7 linked regions of the Homo sapiens genome follow. The protein of the gene in region 5 purifies or fractionates together with the protein of the main gene of each other region. This does not show direct contact. Each region holds a gene or a part of one and is shown on either strand. Other genes may lie near its edges. The genes, in order: HADHA, SLC25A33, HADHB, AMBRA1, ATAD3A, POLD3 and HIGD1A.

What was found.
Region 1: the proteins of ATAD3A (region 5) and HADHA purify together in Homo sapiens (tandem affinity purification; one large-scale study listed by IntAct). This does not show direct contact.
Region 2: the proteins of ATAD3A (region 5) and SLC25A33 purify together in Homo sapiens (tandem affinity purification; one large-scale study listed by IntAct). This does not show direct contact.
Region 3: the proteins of ATAD3A (region 5) and HADHB purify together in Homo sapiens (tandem affinity purification; one large-scale study listed by IntAct). This does not show direct contact.
Region 4: the proteins of ATAD3A (region 5) and AMBRA1 purify together in Homo sapiens (affinity purification with western blotting; 2 studies listed by BioGRID, with this or other methods). This does not show direct contact.
Region 6: the proteins of ATAD3A (region 5) and POLD3 purify together in Homo sapiens (tandem affinity purification; one large-scale study listed by IntAct). This does not show direct contact.
Region 7: the proteins of ATAD3A (region 5) and HIGD1A purify together in Homo sapiens (tandem affinity purification; one large-scale study listed by IntAct). This does not show direct contact.

The regions. Positions count from the first base shown.
Region 1 is NC_000002.12:26,238,133-26,241,632, forward strand, and holds part of HADHA (trifunctional enzyme subunit alpha, mitochondrial precursor), read right to left. Parts: intron 1,012-3,500; coding exon 970-1,011; intron 873-969; coding exon 802-872; intron 1-801. UniProt on the Homo sapiens protein: Mitochondrial trifunctional enzyme catalyzes the last three of the four reactions of the mitochondrial beta-oxidation pathway.
Region 2 is NC_000001.11:9,552,965-9,556,464, forward strand, and holds part of SLC25A33 (solute carrier family 25 member 33), read left to right. Parts: intron 1-661; coding exon 662-841; intron 842-3,500. UniProt on the Homo sapiens protein: Mitochondrial transporter that imports/exports pyrimidine nucleotides into and from mitochondria. Selectively transports uridine, thymidine, guanosine, cytosine and inosine (deoxy)nucleoside di- and triphosphates by an antiport mechanism.
Region 3 is NC_000002.12:26,282,939-26,286,438, forward strand, and holds part of HADHB (trifunctional enzyme subunit beta, mitochondrial isoform 1 precursor), read left to right. Parts: intron 1-65; coding exon 66-113; intron 114-1,178; coding exon 1,179-1,266; intron 1,267-1,944; coding exon 1,945-2,019; intron 2,020-2,468; coding exon 2,469-2,633; intron 2,634-3,500. UniProt on the Homo sapiens protein: Mitochondrial trifunctional enzyme catalyzes the last three of the four reactions of the mitochondrial beta-oxidation pathway.
Region 4 is NC_000011.10:46,545,524-46,549,023, forward strand, and holds part of AMBRA1 (activating molecule in BECN1-regulated autophagy protein 1), read right to left. Parts: intron 2,978-3,500; 5' UTR 2,858-2,977; coding exon 2,723-2,857; intron 2,353-2,722; coding exon 2,294-2,352; intron 1,774-2,293; coding exon 1,590-1,773; intron 254-1,589; coding exon 81-253; intron 1-80. UniProt on the Homo sapiens protein: Substrate-recognition component of a DCX (DDB1-CUL4-X-box) E3 ubiquitin-protein ligase complex involved in cell cycle control and autophagy.
Region 5 is NC_000001.11:1,525,662-1,529,161, reverse strand, and holds part of ATAD3A (ATPase family AAA domain-containing protein 3A), read right to left. Parts: intron 2,702-3,500; coding exon 2,631-2,701; intron 2,002-2,630; coding exon of another isoform or gene 1,887-2,001; exon of another isoform or gene 1,480-1,886; intron 1,468-1,479; coding exon 1,300-1,467; intron 1-1,299. UniProt on the Homo sapiens protein: Essential for mitochondrial network organization, mitochondrial metabolism and cell growth at organism and cellular level. May play an important role in mitochondrial protein synthesis. May also participate in mitochondrial DNA replication.
Region 6 is NC_000011.10:74,627,082-74,630,581, reverse strand, and holds part of POLD3 (DNA polymerase delta subunit 3), read right to left. Parts: intron 1,368-3,500; coding exon of another isoform or gene 1,366-1,367; coding exon 1,259-1,365; intron 1-1,258. UniProt on the Homo sapiens protein: Accessory component of both the DNA polymerase delta complex and the DNA polymerase zeta complex.
Region 7 is NC_000003.12:42,794,491-42,797,990, reverse strand, and holds part of HIGD1A (HIG1 domain family member 1A, mitochondrial), read left to right. Parts: intron 1-3,500. UniProt on the Homo sapiens protein: Proposed subunit of cytochrome c oxidase (COX, complex IV), which is the terminal component of the mitochondrial respiratory chain that catalyzes the reduction of oxygen to water. May play a role in the assembly of respiratory supercomplexes.

The sequences.
Region 1 (3,500 bases), on a different chromosome or scaffold from region 5:
GAGTAGCTAGCACTACAGGTGAACATCACCATACCCAACTATTTTTTATTTTTTATAGAGACAAGGTCTTGCTATGTTGCCCAGGGTGGTCTCAAACTCCTGGGCTGAAGTGATCCTCCTGCCTCGGCCATCCAGTGTTGGGATTATAGGTGTGAGCCACAGTGCCCAGCCTGGCTACAAGATTTTTAAAGTAAGAATACACCAAATTTAGATGGGGGAAAAGCATGGACTCTCACAATAAAGCTCTTCTTGGCAAAAGAATGGATTACTGTTACACACTTTATTGAAGCTGCCAAAAACAAAAGAAGTTTCAATTCGAACAGAACTTGATTTCCAATATGTGAATTGCATTGAGTCATTCAGATCCCTCAGGAAGCTTAAGAGCCAAGTATCCACATTTCACTCAGCCAACTTACTATGAATAGTGACTTATGTCAGGCAAGTAATGAAGAAAATGGATTAACAACCTCATATTTAAGATGGGTAGGCAAATTTTGAGTCTTATAAACAAAGCTTGTACTCTGGTTCTTCTCTAATAAGTCACCTCCTCATTCTACACTATAACCAGGAGGCTGGTGGCACCTAAGGTCAACAAGAGGAATTCTTACGCAAGAACCTCTGCTTTAGAAAACTGGCTCCCTTGGCAATCTGTCAAAGTTTAACATAACTGTCAAAACTGTAAATTCATGTAAGATTACTGCCAGATTGGTAGATTTGGGGAAATATGGGATACATCTTTCCCATTCAGGACTAGATTCATAATGCGGTTAGCAGAAAAAAACTGCAAATTAAATGAGATACCTTTGAATTGGGAGAGTTAATTCGAACAACTGCCACATCCCCTTTGACTCCATAGTTAATATGGGTTCTGGCTAAAAAGAAAAGAAAGATTTATTTGTAAACATATTTATTGCAACATAAATCCAAAAAGCAATGTAAGCATACACATTAAAAAGAAATTAAACTTACTCAGCAAAGCAGAAGACCCTGTAAAATTGCGGCATATATAACCTGTAAGAAAAGACATTTCAAAATTAATTTGCGAAACAATTTCTGTAGTACCTTTTATATATAACAAAGCTGTAATTTACAATAATAACAACAACAAAAACCCCAAATCTGTACAATGTATTCTAGGCCATATGACTACTGCCATATTTTTTCCATTTCAGTTGTTAGGTCAGATGATTATTTGGATACTAAAAGAGGAAGACTGGCCCCCACAAAGGGATATACATCCCCAGAACCTGTGAATATGTTAGGTTACACGGCAAAGGGGGGATTAAAGTTGCTAATCAGTTGGCCTTAATAAAGAAAGTTTATCATGGATTATCCAGGTGGGCCCAGTGTAATCACAAAAGGGAAGAGGGAAGCAAAGAGAACCAAAGAGATAGCAATGTAAGAGGCACATGGGAACTACTGACTGGAGAACCCAGTGAAGGTGGAGTGGAATAGGGGAGGATCATCAGTAGGTTGCCAAGGCTCTTGCTGCCTCCGTATTTTCTCTTTATCCCCCAGTTCCTTATGGAAAGGGAAGAGAAGGCACAAAAAATAGCAGCTTTATACTGGTTGGAAAGGCAAGGTGACACATTAAAAAAAAAAAAAGAAAGAAAACTGTGGTTAGCACCAGAAGCAGAATGGGGTGATTTCAGGTTCTGCCTGCATTTCTTCTTTAAGCAATCCAAGCCAGCCGACTTAGTGCAAAGGCAAAGGACTTGTGTTCAACCATCAGGTTTATTTACTAGCTGTGTGACTGTGAACAAGTCTCTTACAAGTGAACTTCAGTGTTTTAAGATGGGAGAAGCCAGCCATCTCCTCAATCCCCAGTGCCTCTACTTGACTAATAGTATGTTTCCTGCTTTGCTTTTCCATCATTTGAAATCTGTGTCATCTGTATTTACCACTCTTCCTTCTTTATATTTGCATCATGACTCCACTCTTTTCCACAAAACCTCATCTTCGGATTCTGTCTACAGTGATCCTTCCTTTCCTTGCCTGCATTTTTATTTTATTATTTAATGTTCTGTCCTCTAACTGCTGCATCTGTAGCAGGTGTTTCACCAACCACATTGTAATCTTTTCCAACATAATCTGTTATTCATTCAACAAAAACATATATTGTGACCTCCATGTGCCATTCACTGTTCTAGGCACTTGGAGTACAGCAGGACATTCAGGGTGAACAAAAAAGACAAAAATCCCTGTCTTGGTGGAGCTTACATTCCAGGTCAGCAGGGGATATGATATCTGGGAAGAATCAGTTCCTACTCAGTGAAGATAAATGAAAAGTGAAAATAGGCCTGGCATAGAAAAAGTTTTCCTGCAAAGTAGAAATTCCAGTGGGAAGGGAAGAAGGGGATAGGTAATTCTAGCAAAACAGGGTAAAGTGGATTAGAGTGGGAATGAACTGATTGGGAATGCAGGTTGAGAGGGAAAAACCAAGAAACACAAATATGTTAGAAAATAAGCACCTAAGCAAAAAAAGGAAATAGAGTGAGCATGGGTTGCAATATTTCAAAAACATTTTTTTTCTTTGAGACGAGGTCTCCCTATGTTGCCCAGGCTGGTCTTGAACTCCTGGGCTCAAGTAATCTTCCGGAGTAGCTAGGATTACAGGCATGTGCCACTATGCCCCACTGGGTTGCAGTTTTAAAGATCAAATATTTGAGATAACAGGTTAGTGGTCATTAGCCAACAGTTTAAACCATTTTAACTCCTGTCCACTAACCTACCTATGCTGCCCACACACTCATACACAAAACCTCTCCAAGATCAAGACAAATAGAAACAAATAGAAAACCAGTATATACATGAACATACTTCGAAAATAATTCCAAACCAGAGTCAACCAAATCAAGTCACACTGCAAGGTAGCTTTGCTTTTGGAGTCTAGCCTTACTCACTACCTAACTGCAGAGCTTACCCTATGGCAGCTGAGTGAACTTTAGCCTACATCTACTGTGCCAGCAAAGTAGAGAGAAACCTTTGCCCCACTTTTTAATCATCTTTGTAATGTAACCCAAGAATAACTACAAAACCTCATAAGACTACAGTCAGCGAAGAGAGCTGGATTATGCTAACATAAATTTCAAATTTGAAAACATTACTTTGGTTGTAATAATCAACAGCTTTTCTCAAGATTCAACACTGGGAGAAGCGACGAGATTAAGGAAGTGAGAATCAAATTTAAAAATACACAATCTATGGCCGGGCGCGGTGGCTCACGCCTGTAATCCCAGCACTTTGGGAGGCTGAGGTGGCTGGATCACCTGAGGTCGGGAGTTAGAGACCAGCCTGGCTGACATGGCGAAACCCCGTCTCTACTAAAAATACAACAACAACAACAAAAAAAAAAAAACAAAAAAAAAGTTAGCTGGGCGTGGTGGCAGGAGCCTGTAATCCCAGCTACTCTGGAGGCTGAGACAGGAGAATCACTTGAACCCGGGAGGCGGAGGTTGCAGTGAGCCAAGAGCGCACCATTGCACTCCAGGCTGGGTGAC
Region 2 (3,500 bases), 8.0 Mb from region 5:
TGGAGTGCAATGGCAAGATCTCCGCTCACTGCAACCTCTGCCTCAGCCTCCTGAGTAGCTGGGATTACAGGCATGCACCACCATGCCCGGCTAATTTTTGTATTTTTAGTAGAGATGGGGTTTTGCCTTGTTGGCCTGGCTGGTCTCGAACTCCTGACCTCAGGTGATCCACCTGCCTCGGCCTCCCAAAGTGCTGAGGTTCAACTAATTTTATTAACCTTTATTGTGTTCTAGTTTTGTTTTTTTTTTTTTTTTTTTTTTTTGGGTTTTTTTTTTGTTTGAGACGGAGTCTTGCTCTGTCACTCAGGCTGGAGTGCAGTGGCACAATCGGCTCACTGCAGCCTCTGCCTCCTGGGTTCACGCCATTCTCCTGCCTCAGCCTCCCGAGTAGCTGGGACTACAGGCGCCTGCCACCACGCCCAGCTAATTTTTTTCTTTTTTTGTATTTTTAGTAGAGACAGGGTTTCACTGTGTTAGCCAGGATGGTCTCGATCTGCTGACCTCGTGATCCACCCACCTCAGCCTCCCAAAGTGCTGGGATTACAGGCGTGAGCCACCGCGCCCGGCACGTTCTAGTTTTAAAGAGAGAAAAGCTAAGCTTAGCATTCCATTGTGTAGGGAATAGTATAGCTTCTCTGATCTGCTTTGGTTTCCCTTACAGGTGTGGAGGCACAGTTGGTGCTATTTTCACTTGTCCACTAGAAGTCATTAAGACACGGTTGCAGTCTTCAAGATTAGCTCTCCGGACAGTCTACTATCCTCAGGTTCATCTGGGGACCATTAGTGGAGCTGGAATGGTGAGACCAACATCCGTGACACCTGGACTCTTTCAGGTTCTGAAGTAAGTTCAGTCTTGTCTGCTCCTGCCACCTGCACACCCTGTACCGCCACTGTCAACAGAGAATGTTCATCAAGCTTATCAAATGTGATGTTCTGTTTGCATAGCCTTGGTCCTAACTTAAGAATTAGATTTCTTTACCAATACCTTTGAGCTCTGACCTTGCTCCCCTGGCAGCGGGGGGTCCCAGTGTACATGTGACCATCATCCAGGGCAGTTAAAGTAAACCTAGCAAAGCAAACCAAAAATCCACGTGTAAATTGTTGCATCACATCATTGCTCTTGCTCAAAGCTTTTGAGGGAAATGAAGATAAGAGGTGATAGAGTAAAATTTTAAAAATTGCACAACAGAAGAGTTGTGAATATTTTATTTTATTTTATTTATTTACTTTTTTTGAGACAGAAGAATCTCGCTCTGTCACCCAAGCTGGAGTGCAATGGTGCGATCTTGGCTCGCTGCAGGTGATCTGCCCACCTTGGCCTCCCAAAGTGCTGGTATTACAGGCGTGAGCCACCGCTCCCAGCCGTGAATATTTTTAAAAGAAACAAAATGTTTGTTTGTTTGTTTGTTTTTGAGCTGGAGTTTTGCTCTCGTTGCCCAAACTGGAGTGCAATGGCACAATCTCAGCTCACCGCAACCTCTGCCTCCTGGATTCAAGCGATTCTCCTGCCTCAGCCTCCTGAGTAGCTGGGATTACAGACATGCGCCACCATGCCCGGCTAATTTTGTATTTTTCATAGAGATGGAGTTTCTCCATGTTGGCCAGGCTGGTCCCAAACTCCCAACCTCAGGTGATCCGCCTGCCTCAGCCTCCCAAAGTGCTGGGATTACAGGCGTGAGCCACCACACCAGCTTTTTTTTTGCTTTTTATTGGGAAATATTTTTAAATGTGTAGAAAAGTTATGTTTAATAAAATGGGCTTTAAAATTTGTTTTATACCTGAGCTACCTGCCCATTTTATTATTTTTACTGTAGAAAAAATAATTCATTTGCTTATAAAGTAGCCAAATATTCTTAAGTCAAATTTGGCTTATCAGTCTATGCATAAGGTAAAATCAAATTCAGAAGAGAACTGATTGAATATCTGATTTTTAGCTCAGGACCTTGTACTTTGAGATGCTCTATAATTAATAGTTGAATTTAACTGAGCATGATATTCAAATCTTTGAAACTGATTCTTGGGCAAGAGTATGTTCAAGAAAGACATTCATCAAGAAAGCTATCAGTGTAGAGATTTATTTGGGAAATGTTAGAAAAAGAAGTAATAAAATGGAGATGCTCTGTTTTAAAAACAACGCATTTAGCACTTTTTTTTTTTTTTTTTTTTTTTTTGAGATGGAGTCTCACTCTGTCGCCCAGGCTGGAGTGCAGTGGTGCGATCTCCACTTACTGCAAGCTCCGCCTCCTGGGTTCACGCCATTCTCCTGCCTCAGCCTCCTGAGTAGCTGGGACTGCAGGTGCCCGCCATCACACCCAGCTAATTTTTTTGTATTTTTAGTAGAGACGGGGTTTCACCATGTTAGCCAGGATGGTCTCGATTTCCTGACCTCGTGATCCGCCCACCTTGACCTCCCAAAGTGTTGGGATTACAGGCGTGAGCCACCGCACCCAGCCACATTTAGCACTTTTAGGCACAATTTAGATAAGGCAGGATGAGTTGGAGAGTGCTTAGTTTATTTTTAGGTATGTTTTATTTGTAAAACCCAACTATGAGTCACTGGGGCATTCATGCCAAATGTGTGCAAAGGTACATCTGAGCTTACTGAGCGAAACTGAACAGCAAGACCAGATGCCAGGGACAAGTGAGAGCATCAGAAGCCCAGCGAGGGAACAGGGAGATTGGTGTCCAAGACTCCAGGAGAAATTGGGGTTTTTGTTTGTTTGTTTGTTTTCTTTTTTGAGACAGATTCTCACTCTGTCACCCAAGCTGGAGTGCAGTGGTACGATCTCTGCTCACTGAGACCTCTGCCTCCTCGGTTCAAGCGATTCTTCTGCCTCAGCTTCCCGAGTAGCTGGGATCACAGGCATGCACCACGATGCCTGGCTAATTTTTGTATTTTTGGTAGAGACAGAGTTTTACCATGTTGGCCAGGCTGGCCTTGAACTCCTGACCTCAGGAGATCTGCCTGCCTTGGCCTCCCGAAGTACTGGGATTATGGGCATGAGCCACTGTGTCTGGGTGAGAATCAGGTTTTTAAATTAAATGCTAAGAAAAGGAGTGGAGACACTGGGCAGGAAAGTTGGGGGTGGGTACAGGAGGGACAGAAGCACAGAGATGTGGAGGGACACTTTGCTCTCAGGACAGATCCGAGTCCATGGCCCCCATCAAGATGGGACTGTGAGAACACTCCTCCTGCTTTGCCTTTTCACATGCTTAGGCGGTGCCAGTGTCCCGGGTGACACCTTTCTTCTAAGGAACATGCAGTGCTTTGGACATAAGGAAACTGAAGACAGGTAATGTTACTTCAGTAACATTCAAAATGAATTTCCTCTTGCCAAATAATCATGACTAGTGAATTTGGATTTACTGTAACTGGGGAACTGTTACCCAAAAGTGTGGGTGTCAATAGGGCCAACCTGGAAGGTAAATGGGAATGTTTCTCCATTTTAGGTTTTACAGGATATGTGGGTTGAGTGTCCCTTATCTGAAATGCTTGGGAC
Region 3 (3,500 bases), on a different chromosome or scaffold from region 5:
CAAACAAATCATCTCTGATTTCTTTATTTTATTACCAAAGCTCACCTCTCTATTTTTTTACCTAGGGATTTTATGTATGTGTCTCAGGATCCAAAAGATCAACTATTACTTGGGTAGGTAGCAGTTTGTATCCTTGGACTATAATCACAAGTATTTGATTGCCTATGTTTTATTATACTGGTTAATAAATGATTAACACTGGTTTATTATTTATTTGTTTATTACACTGGTTTGAGAGTATATTAAGCCCTGAGTTCATAATTGGTTTATGTGGTGGTTTTTTTAAAAAAAATAATAGTAATCTGGCCGGGCACGGTGGCTCACGCCTGTAATCCCAGCACTTTGGGAGGCCGAGGTGGGCAGACCACGAGGTCAGGAGATTGAGACCATCCTGGCTAACACGGTGAAGCCCTATCTCTACTAAAAATACAAAAAATTAGCCAGGCGTGGTGGCGGGCGCCTGTAGTCCCAGCTACTCGGGAGGTTTTGGCAAGAGAATGGCATGAACCCGAGAGGCAGAGCTTGCAGTGAGCCAAGATCACGCCACTGCACTCCAGCCTGGGCGACAGAGCGAGACTCCATCTCAAAAAAATAAATAAATAAATAAAATAGTAGTAATCCTTTCCATTGGTATATCATGTTACAGTTTTGGATTATTTTCCATTTTTTTCCTATAAGTTTTACATATATATATGGACACACACAACTTATATTCTTTTTCATTAAGATAGCATATGCATTTTTTCATATGGCTACACACCCTGCTACACAATCTTCCTAATATAGCCTTTTATAAAAGCCTCCCCATGTTTAGACTCTGTTCCGTTCCCTCACAAGGCTGTAGCCTCTAGCCTCCACTGTGACGTTCACATCAGTCAAGCCCTTTCCCTTGCCTTGCTCTTTGAACTCTGTTCTTCCAGTTCTTCATGTTATTAGCTTGTCCTTATCCCTCACTGTTTATTTATTATCAATTTCTCTGACTCTGCAACATAAGAGTAGAGGGCATGTCTGTACAGTTTCACTATTTTATCTTTAACATTTCATTAATCAGTACAGAAAAATCAAAGAATGAGTGAAAAGACATTAGAGTACCTATGTAAAACTCAGTTTGGGGAATATGAAGGAGCTCTTAGTTTAAAAATTAAAGTTTTAAGATATTACTTATTTTTTCTTTGCAGACCAACATATGCTACTCCAAAAGTTCTAGAAAAGGCAGGATTGACCATGAATGATATTGATGCTTTTGAATTTCATGAAGCTTTCTCGGTAAGTAATTTGAAAGACACATATGAAGGGACTATAGTCATAAAAAATGTCATCCATATTTGTGGGAGAGAGCAAGGCATGGTTTATGATGTGAGTAGAGCAGGAGTGGACCTGCATATTTTAAGTACTGATTCACACTGCTGGGAGGGGCCCGAGGGGAGGGAAGCAAGGGCCACACATACAGTGTTGGAGAACATACCAAATTGCTTCTTTAGGAAATTGCCATTGAAAACTGATACAAAGATTTGTTCAACTTTACTTTTTTTTTTTTTTTTGGAGACAGAGTCTTGCTCTGTTGCCCCAGCTGGAGTGTAGTGGCACGATCTCGGCTCACTGCAACCTCCGCCTTCCAGGTTCAAGCAATTTTCTTGTCTCAGCCTCCCGAGTAGCTGGGACAAGCAGGCGCCTGCCACCATGCCCGACTAATTTTTTTTATATTTTTAATAGAGACAGGGTTTCACCATATTGGTCAGGCTGGTCTTGAACTCCTGACCTCAGATGATCCACCCGCCTTGGCCTCCCAAAGTGCTGGGATTACAGATGTGAGCCACTGTGCCTGGCCGATTTGTTCAACTTTAAACCATACCTAAAGTTGTTAAACTTTCACAAACCATTCCTATAAGAAAGCGTAGAGGAACATGAATAACGAGGTTCTTATTCGATTATTTTCTCTTCCAGGGTCAGATTTTGGCAAATTTTAAAGCCATGGATTCTGATTGGTTTGCAGAAAACTACATGGGTAGAAAAACCAAGGTGAGTTTCTAATTTTAAAAAATGCGTGAATTTTCAAAGCACGTTAATAATTGGATCTTAGTTACCTGTTCTTAAGAATATGAAGGGAAAGCTTCTCTTTCTTTTGAAGAATTTTGTCTTTCATTAAAGATATTTATTTCTTAGTGTAAAAGTAGAAATTCTTGTATTTCATTAAATATATTTATTTCTTAGTTTAAAAATAGAAATTATTTAGCAAAAATAAAATTCTGTGTTTTTTGTTCCTTGCATTCTGACATTAGATGAAAAATAAATGGACTCCTGACTTTTAATATTGACCTAGACTTACTTTCTTTTGCAGTAAAATTATTTGTAATATGTCTGACGTTACGTATTTTCCTCTATCTCTCTTACTTCGTAGTACTAAGAGCCTAGCTTGATTCTGATCTTAAGTAAACTTATCTTTACATTTGTGTCTTTGGGGGAGCCAGGTTGGATTGCCTCCTTTGGAGAAGTTTAATAACTGGGGTGGATCTCTGTCCCTGGGACACCCATTTGGAGCCACTGGCTGCAGGTTGGTCATGGCTGCTGCCAACAGATTACGGAAAGAAGGAGGCCAGTATGGCTTAGTGGCTGCGTGTGCAGCTGGAGGGCAGGTACGTTACAGTGGTGTCATAGGACCCTCCAGAGAGTCATTTTCTTGGAATGACTAGAATGTATGATTTAGTTTGAAACCTTCTTAAAGCAATATTTTTGATGACCTGGGGGTGGGGAGTGGGGAGGGATAACAGCTGTAATTCTGATAAAACTTTTTGTTTTTTGGGTTTTTTTTTTTTTTTTTTGAGACAGTCTTGCTCTGTCACCCAGGTTGGAATGCAGTGGTAATATCTTAGCTCACTGCAACCTCCACTTCCCGGATTCAGGTGATTCTCGTGCCTCAGCCTCCCGAGCAGTTGAGATTACAGGTGTGCACCACCATGTCCAGTTAATTTTTGTATTTTTAGTAGAGACAGAGTTTCGCCATGTTGGCCAGGCTAGTCTCGAATTGCCGACTTCAAGTGATCCACCCTCCTTGGCCTCCCAAAGTGCTGTGATTACAGGCATGAGCCACCATGCCCTGCCATAATTCTGATAATTCTTTGGAAGGAAACAGCTATTTAAACCCAAGCTATTTTTCCCCAATATAATGTTTATTTTTTACTTATAAATATATGCTGATTATGAAAATTGTGGAATATATGAAAAGTATATAGAAAAAGTTAGAATCATCTATAATCTCCCCATCAGACATTAACATTATTAACATCTTGATATATTTTCTTCTTTAATAATTAACTTTTATTTATCTAGTCACCATAAGACTTTATAAAATCTCTCCAAGAGAGAAACTATCTTTCTAGAGAACTGAATTATACCTTAACTGGGGAGTTAATTTACTTCTGGATAACTTACTGCTGTTCAGCTGGGGAAATATATTGTTGACAGATTTTTTCCTTTCTACTTCACTTGCATTAGAGACCCAA
Region 4 (3,500 bases), on a different chromosome or scaffold from region 5:
CTTCCAAGGTGACAGCCAGTAGAATGTTCTCTATCACGTCAGTCCTGTGCCAGACAATGCAGATGGGGCAGCGCACTCACCGGACCCGTTCCATCTCACTAGCTGTCTTCACCACAGCAAAGGGTTCCCGTCGACTCCAGTCCCAGAAGTGGATCTCATTGGCAGTGGCAATCAGCAGGAGCTGAGCCGTAGGGTGGAAAGCCAGGGAGGCAATGGCATTGTTGCTATCTGTGAACCAGCTTTCACTGCCACCCTGTGAATGAACCAATTCCAGATATTCTCAGGTTACAAGCTACCAGCACACTGGGAAGTCAATTTCAAGAAAGGTCCATTTAAGGTAAAATGACTATGTCTAGGGACTACTTTAAATACATCCTCTGTAAAAAGATGTAGAAGATCAGCGATCTGGTAGTGCCACTAATTTATCAGATAAATACTATACAATCAGTTCAGTTCTTCAAATTAGTCACAATCTACAAGCATTAAGCATATATACACAGTTCCTATTTCTTTTTTTTTTTTTTTTTTTTGACAGGGGGTTTCATTCTGTCACCCAGGCTGGAGTGCAGTGGCACAATCTCAGCACACTGCAACCTCTGCCTCCTAGGCTCAAGCAATCCTCGCACCTCAGCCTCCCAAGTAGCTGGGACCACAGGCGCATGGCACCATGCTCAGCTAATTTTATATAATTTTGTGTATAATATTTTTGGTATAATATCCTGCCCAGGCTGGTCTCAAACTCCTGAACTCAAGCAATCCTCCTGTCTTGGTCTCCTGAAGTGCTAGGAATACAGGCGTGAGCCACCGCGCCCAGCCCACAGTTCCATGCAAAGCCTGAGAAAAACTCAAGCTCGGTGCACAACATGGTGCAAGACAACCCGCTAGCCAGTTACTAGGACAAAGAGGATCTTGCTTTGATGATCATGATCGGAGTACAGGAATATCTGTACTTAGGCAAAGATGCCCTAAGACAACAGAAATCCAACCTGAACATATCTTAGAGCCTCCTGTACTATGTCACAACGGGCTGAAGGAAGCAAAAGTAGATGTTCATCTTAGCAAGAATGGAAGACAATCTCAGGGCATGCTTAAGCTATTGCAAAAAAAAAAAAAAGGAATGGAAGACAGGGAATTAGACTTCCTATTAATTAAGTGGGCAATGTCTACAACAATATATTCAGATGTAGTCCTAAGAATCTGGCTAGGCTCTTCCAGAATTAAAAAACCAATGGTAAACAAGTCTCTGCATTTAGAATACCAAAAGAAGCCGGGCATGGTGGCTCATGCCTGTAATCCCAGCACTTTGGGAGGCCGAGGCAGGCAGACCACTTGAGGTCAGGAGTTCAAGATCAGCCTGGCCAACATAGTGAATCCCCGTCTCTACTAAAAACACAAAAATGAGCCAGGCATGATGGCACATGCCTGTAATCCCAGCTACTTGGGAGGCTGAAGCAGAAGTATCACTTGAACCTGGGAGACGGAGGTTGCAGCGAGCCAAGATCACACCACTGGGCAACAGAGCGAGACTCCGTCTCAAAAAAAAAAAATTAGAACACCAAAAGAAAAGGGTATCTTAAGGAAATACTCACGTGTAAATCCCAAATCCTAACCTCCCCATCTAGGCAGCCAGAAGCAATAAGGCCTGAGATGGTGGGATGAAAAGTGACACACCATGGAGTACGGCGGTGTCCAATCAGGGAATGAACACACTTGCCAGTCTTCACCTCCGTAATATAGATATTATGGTTCACATGGGTGGAGGCTAAGAGAGTCCTAGAAAATCAAAGAGTAGAACTGAATTCAGAAGCATGTGGAAGGGTAACCAATCTTATCAACTTTGGACGACATAGAATATTGATGCTACCTGCCAATCCCAACATGAAAGAAACTAAGCTTTGTATGTTAGGCAGTATATCTACAAACAGAAATATTCTGATCTTTAAAAGCTTTTGGCTTGTCCACACTGTCCCCAAATGACACATGCCACATTCGGAAAATATTTTTTCCCACTGGAAAAACCATCATACCACTGGTGAGCTGTATCACACAGGCAAATGATTGTTATTGAGAAACTTTCCAAGTTTTGATCCTCTCAGTTTCCTTTGCTTGTTCTCATGATTTTTCAGGTTAGCACTGCTCATCTACTTTCTTTCCCTTTCCGACACGGGGCCAAAGTGCTGTTCATACAGTACTTCAGAGAGACTTTAGGGACTGACTTGGAAGATCAAGCCAGGCCAAATATACAGAAAGCACTGTTATCACAAATCTTAAGTTATAGATAAATACTGAGTACCTGTCTGGGCTGAAGGCCAATAAGAAGGTAGAGCGTGGACTATCCGGCAGTTCTACTCTCTGGGAGACAAAAAAAAAAAAAAAGTTAAAATACATGATTTGTAGACCATGGTTCACCGTATCTCAAAAGCACATTAACCATTCTAGATTAGCATTCACAGTGTAGGCTTAAAAACTGGAGACAATGATCAAGCTACAAATTGAGAGAGATAAACCTAAATTACCTTCAGGAAAACTGTCTAGCTCTAAAGGAAAAAGATATTTCTAGCACATTAGTTCTTTCAAATTTACAAACAACTCCCTAAGTCAGATATGTCAACTCTCCCACACAAGATAAATATATCCCAACTCTCTGCTGTTAACCCATTCTAAGGTCTCATTCTACCATCACCAGCACAAATCCTATGTGAAATATAGCCATTTTCCTTACCTTGCCCTCCCATTTCATCCACCGGGTTTTATCTTCTACCAGCTCCTGCAGAAGCCGCTGAGCTCCCATGGCCCGAGCACCCCGTTCTCGCCCCCAGAGTATCCGGACAGCATTCTTTTCTGGGACAACCTTCATGGCGCTCAGTAGCCACTGTCACACCAGGCCCAGGAAATGAAGGAGCAAGTAACAGCTCCAACACACTGAAGCAGCTAAAATGAGGCCATACAGGTCCTTGTAAGTTGTCCTCATGGAAATCTTAAGGAACAAAGAATAATGTCAAAGAACGACTTCTGCAACGAGAAGCTTCTAATTGCAAATACAATTCTAGCTCAAAAGGGAAATTATACTTTTCCTATTTAATGACACTTTCTCAGAAAAGACCCTTCCTCCCAGAATTTTTCTTCCAAAAATATTTCATACTCTCATATTCTCCATAGCTCAACCTTGTAGCTAAAGAAAGGATCAGGCCAAGCACAGTGGCTCACGCCTGTAATCCCCGAACTTTGGGAAGCCAAGGAGATTGGATTGCTTGAGGTCAGGAGTTTGAGACAGCCTGGCCAACATGGTGAAACCCCGTCTCTACTAAAATACAAAAATTAGCCGGGTGTGGTGGCAGGCACCTGTAATCCCAGCTACTCATCAGACTGAAGCAGGAGAATTGCTTGAACCCAGGACGCAGAAGTTGCAGAGAGCTGAGATAGTGCCATTGCACTCCAGTGCCTGGGCGACAGAGCAAGACTCCATCTCAAAAAAAAAAAGATTATTTAGGAGTACCTTT
Region 5 (3,500 bases):
GCCGGAAGACAGGCAGCGAGGCCGACACCCACGCCAAACATCCTCTTTGGAGGGGCTCTCTACTTCTGACAGCCCAGCTCCACATCCTCCCTGCTGCAGGCCAGGCCCGGACTGAGCAGGGAGTGGCTGCAGGGCCTGGAGATGGCCCCAACCACTCCTCACACCAGCCCTGCCCACAGCTGCTCACTCAGCACCCGCAGGGCAGGTGGCCTTTATGCTGGCAGTGGCGGAGCCCCGACTTCTAGCAAAAGCGTCTGCCTGGAGGCCACAGAAGCCAAGTCATGGTGCCAGGGCTACGAGCAGCCATGGGGGTGGGGGAGCCCAGGGAAGGGGAGGGCATAGGGAAACTGAGGCCCGGAAAGCTGGGCTGGCATGGAGCAGGCGGCAGCGGCAACCAGGCTCTCTTTTGTCATCACTGGCGACAGCAGGGATTTGGGTCAGGTGCACAGAAGGACTCAGAAACCGGGGCCCGGGGGACGCCAAGAAGTGGAGCAGCCTCTGCTCATCTGGAGTGTTCCCGAGGCAGCCGGTGTGTGGTGCCAGGGCCCCTCATCACCTGGAGGGCTCTGCCCACCGTGCCTGCTGCACCCACCGCCAGCAACAGGGAGCCTGACAGCCTCAAGGCACGTGAGCAGCAAGAGCCGTGCCCCACACCACGAGGCTCCAGGGCCGGGTGTGGCAGCTGGAGGGAGGCCAGGCCAGAAGCCAGCAGTGGACCATGAGGAGCCTCTCCCTCCAGTCCCGACACGGGGGTCTCATGAGGAGAGACTCCTTCGAATCCCGACACGGGGGTCTCAGAGCAACACTCCGTATCACCTCCCCTCACAGCCAGGGCCTGGGGGTGGCCGAGCACAAGATTTCCTCACAGCCCTCCTCGTAGTGAAGAGGAATGGAAAAGACGCCGGGCGCGGTGGCTCACATCTGTAATCCCTGCACTTTGGGAGGCTGAGGAGAGTGAATCACTTGAGGTCAGGAGTTTGAGACGAACCTGGCCAACATGGTAAAACCCCATTTCTACTAAAAATTAAAAAAAAATTAGCCAGGCATGGTGGTGGGCGCCTGTAATCTCAGCTACTCAGGAGGCTGAGGCAAGAGGATTGTTTGAACCCGGGAGGCAGAGGTTGCAGTCAGCTGAGATCGTGTCACTGCACTCCAGCCTGGGCGACAAGAATGAGACTTTGTCTCAAAAAAAAAAAAAAAAAAGGAATGTTAAAGGTTTGTAAGTGATGGTGGACTGTGGGTCGGGGTGGACCCTGAGCGAGGGCCCCTGGACGGGGGCTGGTGGGGCGGGACACTTACTGCTTTCCTTCTGTGGCCGGCTTAAGAACATACTTGTCAAAATACATTCTCACCAGGCGCTCCCGTTCCTCCTGCCCTGGCAGGTCGAAGTGGACCATCTCATTGATGCGGTCATTGATGGCCCAGTCGAACTGCTCTGGTTGGTTGCTGGCCAGGACCAGCATGAACCTGCGGGGCGGGGATGAGGATGAGGATGCTGGGGCTGCCGGCCGAGCTGCACCAAGGGGAACGGGGCCTCCTCAGCCCCCACAGGGAGAACCTAAAGTGGCGGGAAACACGAGGACACGGGCACAGCCCTGGTCGGCCACCTGCCCCACTGCACCCAGCTGTCCCCCGGCCTGGCTTCCTGGGCCTCTGTTCTCCCTCCATATAGTGCTTTCCCGCTGACCCTCGCCCAGCCTGATAGGCAGTGCCGGGAACACCACTCTCTCCTGCTGCCTGACCCCTGCTGTGCTGGGAGCAGGGATTCGGGACCCGGAGTCCATGTCGAGAAGTCGCCCACACGTGCCAGGAGCAGGACCTCAGGGGCCCGGGTTCACTGGAGGCTCAGCAGGGCCCCAGCCTTGCCTCTCTGGGAAGGACCCGAGTCAGGGCTCCAGGGAGCATCCACCGGCAGCAGCTGACCTGGGAGCCCAACGTGCCTGAGGAGTCAGCCACGGCCGACCAGCAGGACTTGATCCTCCGTGTGACACGTGACTGGGGCTGGAGGGGCCCAGGAGACCAAGAAAACTCAAAATTAGGGGACTTGGGAGGGACTAGGGAGCCTGGCCATGGGGCGGTCACCCTATGGGGGACCTCTGGGCGGCAGCCCACAGAGGCCACACAAAGTCGGGTGGGCCCCAAGCCTGGAGGGTGCACCCTTGGCCAGCATCCGGGCGGGGGACCAAGGTCCCAGGTTCCGCCCCGACACACAGGACCTGCTGGTGTCCAACTTCCCGTGGGAGCAAACTTGTCTCCATCTCCCACCCCAGGGCACACACACCCTCCAAGGGAGACCCAGCAGAGCCTCACACGATGAGACCACCTCCCTTGCAGGCACAGGACCGCAGAAACCTAGGGGCAGAGGGACCTGCAAGCTGGGGCGGCGGCGCACAGGGCCGTGAGGACAGGACTGACCCCAGCTCTGCCCGGGAGGCCCCCGCATGTTCCTCAGTGACACCCCGTGCTGTCCCGAGCTGGGCCGTTCCCAGGGGACATCCGAGGTGGGCATGTTGAGGCCACGGCAGCTGCCCAGCACTGTGAGCCAGGGCCCCTCAGGTCCCTCGGTGGGAACCAAGGGCGACGGCTGCACAGCCCTGCCCGGGGGCCCAGGACCCGAGGGGCTCCCTCACTTGTTGCTGTGCTGGCCCGTGCGGTACAGGAAGGCGTTCAGTGTGGCCCTGAGGTCCTCGCTTATCTTCTCCTGCAGAGAGAAGGTTCCAGCCTTAGGCACCAGGAGCAAAGCCTTGTAAACAGCCACAGCAGAAAGTCCCACAGGCCTCCCTCCTGCAGGGAGCAGGGACATGGCGACACTTTCATGGATCTACTCTCAAAAGCCTGACCAGGGCCAGGGGCGGTGGCTCACGAATGTAACCTGGATTTTGGGAGGCTGAGGCGGGCAGATCACACGAGGTAAGGAGTTTGAGACCATCCTGGCCAACATGGTGAGACCCCGTCTCTACTAAAAATACAAAAATTAGCCAGGCGTGGTGGCGCACCTGTAGTCCCAGCTACGTGGGAGGCTGAGGCACGAGAATCACTGAAACCTGGGAGGCAGAGGTTGTAGTGAGCTGAAATTGCACCGCTGCACTCCAGCGTGGGCAACAGAGTAAAATTCTGCCTTAAAAAAAAAAAAAAGAAAAAGAAAAGAAAGCCTGACCGGGCACGGGGGCTCACATCTGTAATCCCAGCACTTCAGAACGTCAAGGGAGGCAAATCTCTTTAGCTCAGAAGTTTGAGCCCAGTCTGGGCAACGTGAGGAAACTCCATCTCTACTAAAATTACAAAAAAATTAGACAGGTATTCCACTGTGCCCCTGCAGTCCCAGCTACTCAGGCGGCTGAGGCAGGAGGATTGCTTGAGCTCCAGAGGTCGAGGCAACAGTGAGCTGTGATCGCCCCTGCACTCCAGCCTGGGCGACAGAGACCCTGTCTTAGAATGATAATTAAAAGGCTGGGCGTGGTGGCTCACGCCTGTAATCCCAGCACTTTGGGAGGCCAAGG
Region 6 (3,500 bases), on a different chromosome or scaffold from region 5:
CCTCTCTGGGATGCTCACGTGTCTTACTCCTACCCATTCTAAAGAGCCACTAAAACCCACGGAAGGACATTGTACCTCTCACAGGATATCACAGGCTGTAATTCTAAACACATAGCATGAATGGTAGAATCTAAATCCACAGAAGTGTCAAAGATGCTACACCTTTATCACAGATTCAGCTTCCTGCTACTATTTCTTGGGTCTGTTCATTTCTTTTGCATTACTGTCAACTGTATATATAATTTGTTTTTTTTTCACTCACTTGTATAGTTGAGCTAATATCCTTTTTTCGGAAGCCTCTCTTACCATTTTCAATTCCTCTTAGAGTAGTTTCTGGAAAAAGCAGAATCTTACAAGTTTCAGAATCTTACAAGTTTGTCCTTTGATAGCTCAGTAGGTTCCTTTTTTGCATTCATTATTCTTCTTTACTCTCCCTTTTAGTATCTGTTCGTGTTTGTCTCTGTATCTTTATGTGATGCTGAAATCCTTTGGACTAGATTTCCCCTCATTACTTAAAATGTTTTATACCCATTATGCCATGAATTCATGGACAATTGATTAGAGCAGTTCAAACTTTTCACCACTGTGTCTCAAAGTGGGCTTTTCAAGGTAGAGTCGTCCAGCATATCAGTTCAACCCATTTAACTTTCTTTTTAGCCTCCTTCTTTTTCTATATACTTTATACAATTTGGGGCAAGATCTTGGCTCTTCAAAATACTTGATATTTTTTTAAAAGCATATTAATGTTCCCGGTAAAACTCTTGCCCTTATGAGGTTTGCTTATCTTACAACATTGCCCACAGCCTAAAACTAGAAGGGTCCACAGTGTCATTCCCTTCTAACAATGACACTGTAGGTTGTTCCAGTTAACCCTAGTTTTACCTGTGTGGACCACCACCAGTAATACCCTGGCTGCCTAGAACGTCACAATTTTTAAAAGATTCACATGAAGGTAGCTAAAGGAATATCCTCCCCTTAAAAGTAAAAAAAAAAAAGAAAAGAAAAGAAAAAGTCTTAGATAATATGTATAATAATAATTCTTATCCTCTTTCCTTCTGTGTTATTTTGACAAATTTCCAAAAGATCATGGTTCTAGTCAAAAGGCTAATGCAGATTTCAAACAGAAAGAGGTGCTATGGTGTCTCTTAATGCTAGAATTACTACTCTCATTGTGATCCTTAATCCATTACTTTTTTAGCTCCTTGAACATTGAAAGTAAAATTGATCCCCCTAACCCAAAATGAATGGTAATGCCCACCTTCATCTTCACTGCTATCAGATTCAGGAAGTTTGATTCTTCTCCTCTTTTTCCTCATGTTTTCAGTTTCCTTTGTCTCATCATCAGATAATGCTACTCGCTTCCCCCTGTTGCCATCCAGAAATAAATTAAGCGTGTTACACAGAACAAAAATGTAAGTATTCACATGCTCTTATGGGTTTTGCTTTATAACTCGTGGTCTTAATTCCAGAGGGTAGAAAAGGACGGCCAAATAGTCCAAGAAGGACTCTTGTTAAGGATACTCTGCTAACTGACCACAACTAAGTCACTTCATGAGGTGACTTGAATAAAAAAGTTCTAGAGTTCTCTAGAGACTGCTGGAAGCTACAACCAGGTTATCAAGAATCTTTCCAAATTCCTTCTTACTTCCCTGATTGGCCTTTCAATTATCCAACAAGCATTAAATAAGCAGCTACTACATACATACAAGGCTCTTTGCTAGCCATTGAGAATGCAACAATACAGAAGAAAATACTGTTTTCAAGAAGCTCTGGCAAACACCACTGGCTATAAGGCAATGTGGTAGATTTAACTGGACAAATAAAATGTTATGGAATATAATTCATATTTGGAAAACTTAAAAGCTAAGTAGAAGTTCATCATGTAGAAAGGGGAAACATATTTTAAAGAGAAAGAACAATATGAGCAAAGGCAGAGATATCCTTTTAAGGTGATTCTAATGACATAATAATAATAAAAAAAATCCTAGACTCCATCATGACATTATTTAGCTCCTCTGGATGAATGGATACTCCATCACACTCCTCATGCAACCAACAAGTAATTTATCAAAGGCCTACTGAATGTTAGAGAAACAAATATATACAAGACATAATCTTTGCCATCAAGTACCTTATGTCCTATATAACTTTAAATACCAACTTTCCTTTCTACCTTGAACTAGAAAAAGAACAATTAAACCCAAAGTAAAAGGAAACAATAAAGATAAGAGCAGAAATCAGTGAGATAAAAAATAAGAGAAAATTAACAAAGCCAAAGTTGTTATTTTTGGGAGATTAATTTTATTAATAAGCCTTTTATAAAACCCATTTTGAAAACAGAAAAATATAAATTATCAATCAGGAATGAAACAGTAAAGAAATCTGTATCGAGTACAGGTTCTACAAACTCGAAGAATAAAGTTATATAATGAACGGGTTTATGCCAATAAACTCAACAATTTAGATCAAATTTTGACTGAGTTTTAAAAACACAACTCAGTCAAAACTGATCCAAGAAGAACTAGAGAATTTGAACAGCTCTAGTTAAATCAAATTCACAATAAAAACCTTTCCCACAAATAAAATCCAGCCCTGGATTCACTGGTAAATTTTATTAAACATTTGAAAAATATACACGTATATATAAACTCCTTCAGAAAACAGAGGAAACTTCTCCCAACTGCGGTCATGGATCACTTAATGACAGGGACATATTTTGAGAAATGCATTGTTAGGTGACTTCACTGTGTGAACATCACAGAGTATACTCACACAAACCTAGATGGTATAGTCTATGCTCCTAGGCTACAAACCTGTACATCATTGTTACTGTACTCAATACTGTAGGCAACTGTAACACAACGGTATTTGTGTATTTAAACATCTAAAAAGAGAAAAGATACAGTAAAAATACTGTATAAAAAAGATTAAAAATGGTACACATGTATAGGGCACTTACCACGAATGGGGCTTTCAGTACTGAAAGTTGCTCTGGCTGAGTCAGTGAGTGAGCGGTGAGTGAAATGTGAAGGCCCTAGGATGTTACTGTACACTACTGTAGACTTTATCAACACTGGATACTCAGGCAACACTAAATTTATTTTAAAATGTTTTTCTTTCTTCAATAATAAACAGCTTACTTTAACTGTATTTTCAATTTTATAACTTTTTGGCTCTTTTGTAATAACACAGCTTAAAACACAAAAAATTGTACAGCTGTACAAAAATATTTTCTTCTTTATATCCCTATTCTATAGGCCTTTTTCTATTTTAAAAATTTTTTATTTACTTTTTAAACTTTTTTTGTTGAAAGCTAAGACCCAAACACACATTAGCCTCGGCCTACACAGGGTCAGGATCATCAATGATCATTGTCTTCCACCTCCACATTTTGTCCCACTGGAAGGTCTTCTTCAGGGGCAGTAACACACATGAAGCTGTCATCTCTTATGATAACAATGCCTTCTTTTGAAATATCTCCTAAGGGCTGCCTGAGGCTA
Region 7 (3,500 bases), on a different chromosome or scaffold from region 5:
CCGGGCGGCTGGCCGGGCGGGGGGCTGACCCCCCCACCTCCCTCCCGGATGGCACGGCTGGCCGGGCGGGGGGCTGACCCCCCACCTCCCTCCCGGATGGGGCGGCTGGCCGGGCGGGGGGCTGACCCCCCCTCACCTCCCTCCCGGACGGGGTGGCTGCCGGGCGGAGATGCTCCTCACTTCCCAGATGGGGTGGCTGCTGGGCGGAGAGGCTCCTCACTTCTCAGACGGGGCAGCTGCCGGGCGGAGGGGCTCCTCACTTCTCAGACGGGGTGGTTGCCAGGCAGAGGGTCTCCTCACTTCTCAGACGGGGCGGCCGGGCAGAGACGCTCCTCACCTCCCAGACGGGGTCTCGGCCGGGCAGAGGCGCTCCTCACATCCCAGATGGGGCGGTGGGGCAGAGGCGCTCCCCACATCTCAGACGATGGGCGGCCGGGCAGAGACGCTCCTCACTTCCTAGATGTGATGGCGGCTGGGAAGAGGCGCTCCTCACTTCCTAGATGGGATGGCGGCCGGGCGGAGACGCTCCTCACTTCCCAGACTGGGCGGCCGGGCAGAGGGGCTCCTCACATCCCAGACGATGGGCGGCCAGGCAGAGACACTCCTCACTTCCCAGACGGGGTGGCGGCCGGGCAGAGGCTGCAATCTCGGCACTTTGGGAGGCCAAGGCAGGCGGCTGGGAGGTGGAGGTTGTAGTGAGCCGAGATCACGCCACTGCACTCCAGCCTGGGCACCACTGAGCACTGAGTGAACGAGACTCCGTCTGCAATCCCGGCACCTCGGGAGGCCGAGGTTGGCGGATCACTCGCGGTTAGGGGCTGGAGACCGGCCCGGCCAACACAGCGAAACCCCGTCTCCACCAAAACCAGTCAGGCGTGGCGGCGCGTGCCTGCAATCGCAGGCACTCGGCAGGCTGAGGCAGGAGAATCAGGCAGGGAGGTTGCAGTGAGCCGAGATGGCAGCAGTACAGTCCAGCTTCGGCTCCGCATGAGAGGGAGACCGTGGGGAGAGGGAGACGGAGACGGAGACGGAGACGGAGACGGAGAAGGAGGGAGAGGGAGAGGGAGACGGAGAGGGAGACGGAGAGGGAGAGGGAGAGGGAGAGGGACGGAAGTTATAAGATTCTAACCCTCCCTAAAATGCTCCTAAGATCAGTGCTTGAGATATTTTGCAGACCCTGCACTTGATAGACCAACTGGCACCACCCAGATCAATAAACTGGCTCGTCTGATCTTATGTCCCCTACCTAGGAACTGACTCAGCACAAGAGGACAGCTTCAACTTCCCATTTCATCTCCAACCCAACCAATCAGCACTCTGTTCTCTGGCCTTCCCCCACCCACCAAATTATCCTTAAAAACTGATCCCTGAATGCTCCAAGAGACTGATTTGACTAATAATAAAAATCCTGGTCTCCCACACAGCTGGCTTTGGGTGAATTGCTCTTTCTCTATTGCAATTCCCCTGTCTTGGTAAATCAGCTCTGTCTAGCCAGCGGGCAAGGTGAACCTGTTTGGCGGTTACATGATTTCTCTTTTTTTTTTAAAAAAAAAAACAACAACTAATTTTTGAACGATTAATTACTTTAGTGTTTATATTGTATTATTCAGATATATAGTGAGTATCTTGAACCTTGAGCTTATTGAACCTTATATATAATAAAGCTCATTACTTAGGAGTTTATTCAGTTAAGAAGTAATGGAGTACAAAAAGAAGGTTTAAGTCCAATCTAAATTTTCTTTTATTTAGCTAAGATTTTCTTCTATGTCAGATGACAGTTGAGTCTTCTCAATGAAGGTGAGGCTTATAGGGATGAATTCACTTTCTAAACTAAGCACACCACCCCCTCCGGAGTTGCATTTTTGTTGAGGACCTTAACTGCCACTGACTCCCCTTGAGTAGCAAGGTGTTGAATGAGAGGTACTTTTATCAAAGGGAGCATAATGCACATGAAAAACCCAGAAGTGAAAGTAAGATTTTATATGGGTGTTAGGATGGGCATAGACTTTTAAGTTTATTGTAATTGACACTAATTAGAGACTTGTATGCTTACACTATGCTTCAGGCCCTTATTTTATCTGTGAGTAAAGTTTATTGCAATTCAAAATAGTTCAGTGAAGAAAGTATACTTTGTTATTGTGGCTAAAATGAAATAGCATTTGTTAATGCCTCATTGTGATAAAAGGGCTATTCACGGAGATGACTGAAAAGGAGGAAAGGAGCCTTTGATCCCTGTGATAATGAAAATGAATCCTTTTTTTTTTTTTCCTATCCCCTTACTCATACACTATCAGGCTAGATCTTGCCTTTGGGATACCATTTAAAGGAATTATAAAAAGAGGGTAGAGTTTTAAAAGGAAGCCTAGGGGATATAAGGTATGTAAATGAAGGCAGATCTGAAGCTTAGAAGATATTAAGAAGACCCTGAGGGTAATTCAGTTTTGTGCTGCAGTGATGTTAAAAGGTGCTAATCATAGGGCCAGGTGTGGTAGCTCATGCCTGTAATCCCAACACTGGGAGGCAGGTGGATCACCTGAGGTCAGGAGTTCGAGACCAGCCTGGTCAAGATGGTGAAACCCCATCTCTACTAAAAATACAAAAAAAATTAGCCAGGCATGGTGGCAGGCACTTCTAATCCCAGGTATTTGGGAGGCTGAGGCAGGAGAATCACTTGAACCTGGGAGGCAGAGGTTGCAGTGAACCAAGACTACGCCATTGCACTCCAGCCTGGGCAACAAGAACGAAACTCCATCTCAAAAAAAAAAAAAAAAGCTAATCATAAGCTGGCACAGTGGCTCACACCTGTAATCCCAGCAGTTTGGGAGGCTGAGGTGGGTGGATCACGTGAGGTCAGGAGTGAAACCCTGTCTCTACTAAAGAATACAAAAAAATTAGGCACGGTGGTGTGTGCCAAATGGAGGTTGCAGTGAGCCGAGATCGTGCCACTGCACTCCACCCTGGGCAACAGAGCAAGACTCAGTCTCAAAAAAGAAAAAAAACTAATCATAGGTCATTAAAAAAATCTAAAAGGCTATGAAGGAGACATTTCTACCAATATTTAAAATAAAAGCTTTGTTCTTAAAATGAGTAAATAATGAGCTAGGTAGAAACTTTGGCTATTCAGAATAATCTTTTCCCCAGAGGCAACCACCATGGATAACAGATTACTGTAATAGACTGGAAACTAATCTGAAGTGAAAATTGAAGCAAGGAAGCACATTGGAATAAATAAATCAGCAGTTGAAAGCAATAAAGACTGCATTTAACTACACCGAAAAGTGCTAAGTAGGATTTCCAACATGATATTGAAGGTTCAATAGGAGTTGTCAGTTTGGTTTGAGTAACTTAAAATTGTCAAGTTAAATAGTTGATTAAGGATGAAGATAGCCAGAAAATTAGTAGCTACTATTTTAATTGATAAAAGTAACATCAATTTAAAATTTTTCACTATTTTTAATTAACATGGTGCTAAAAATGAATGGGTTGTACAGGGGAAACGG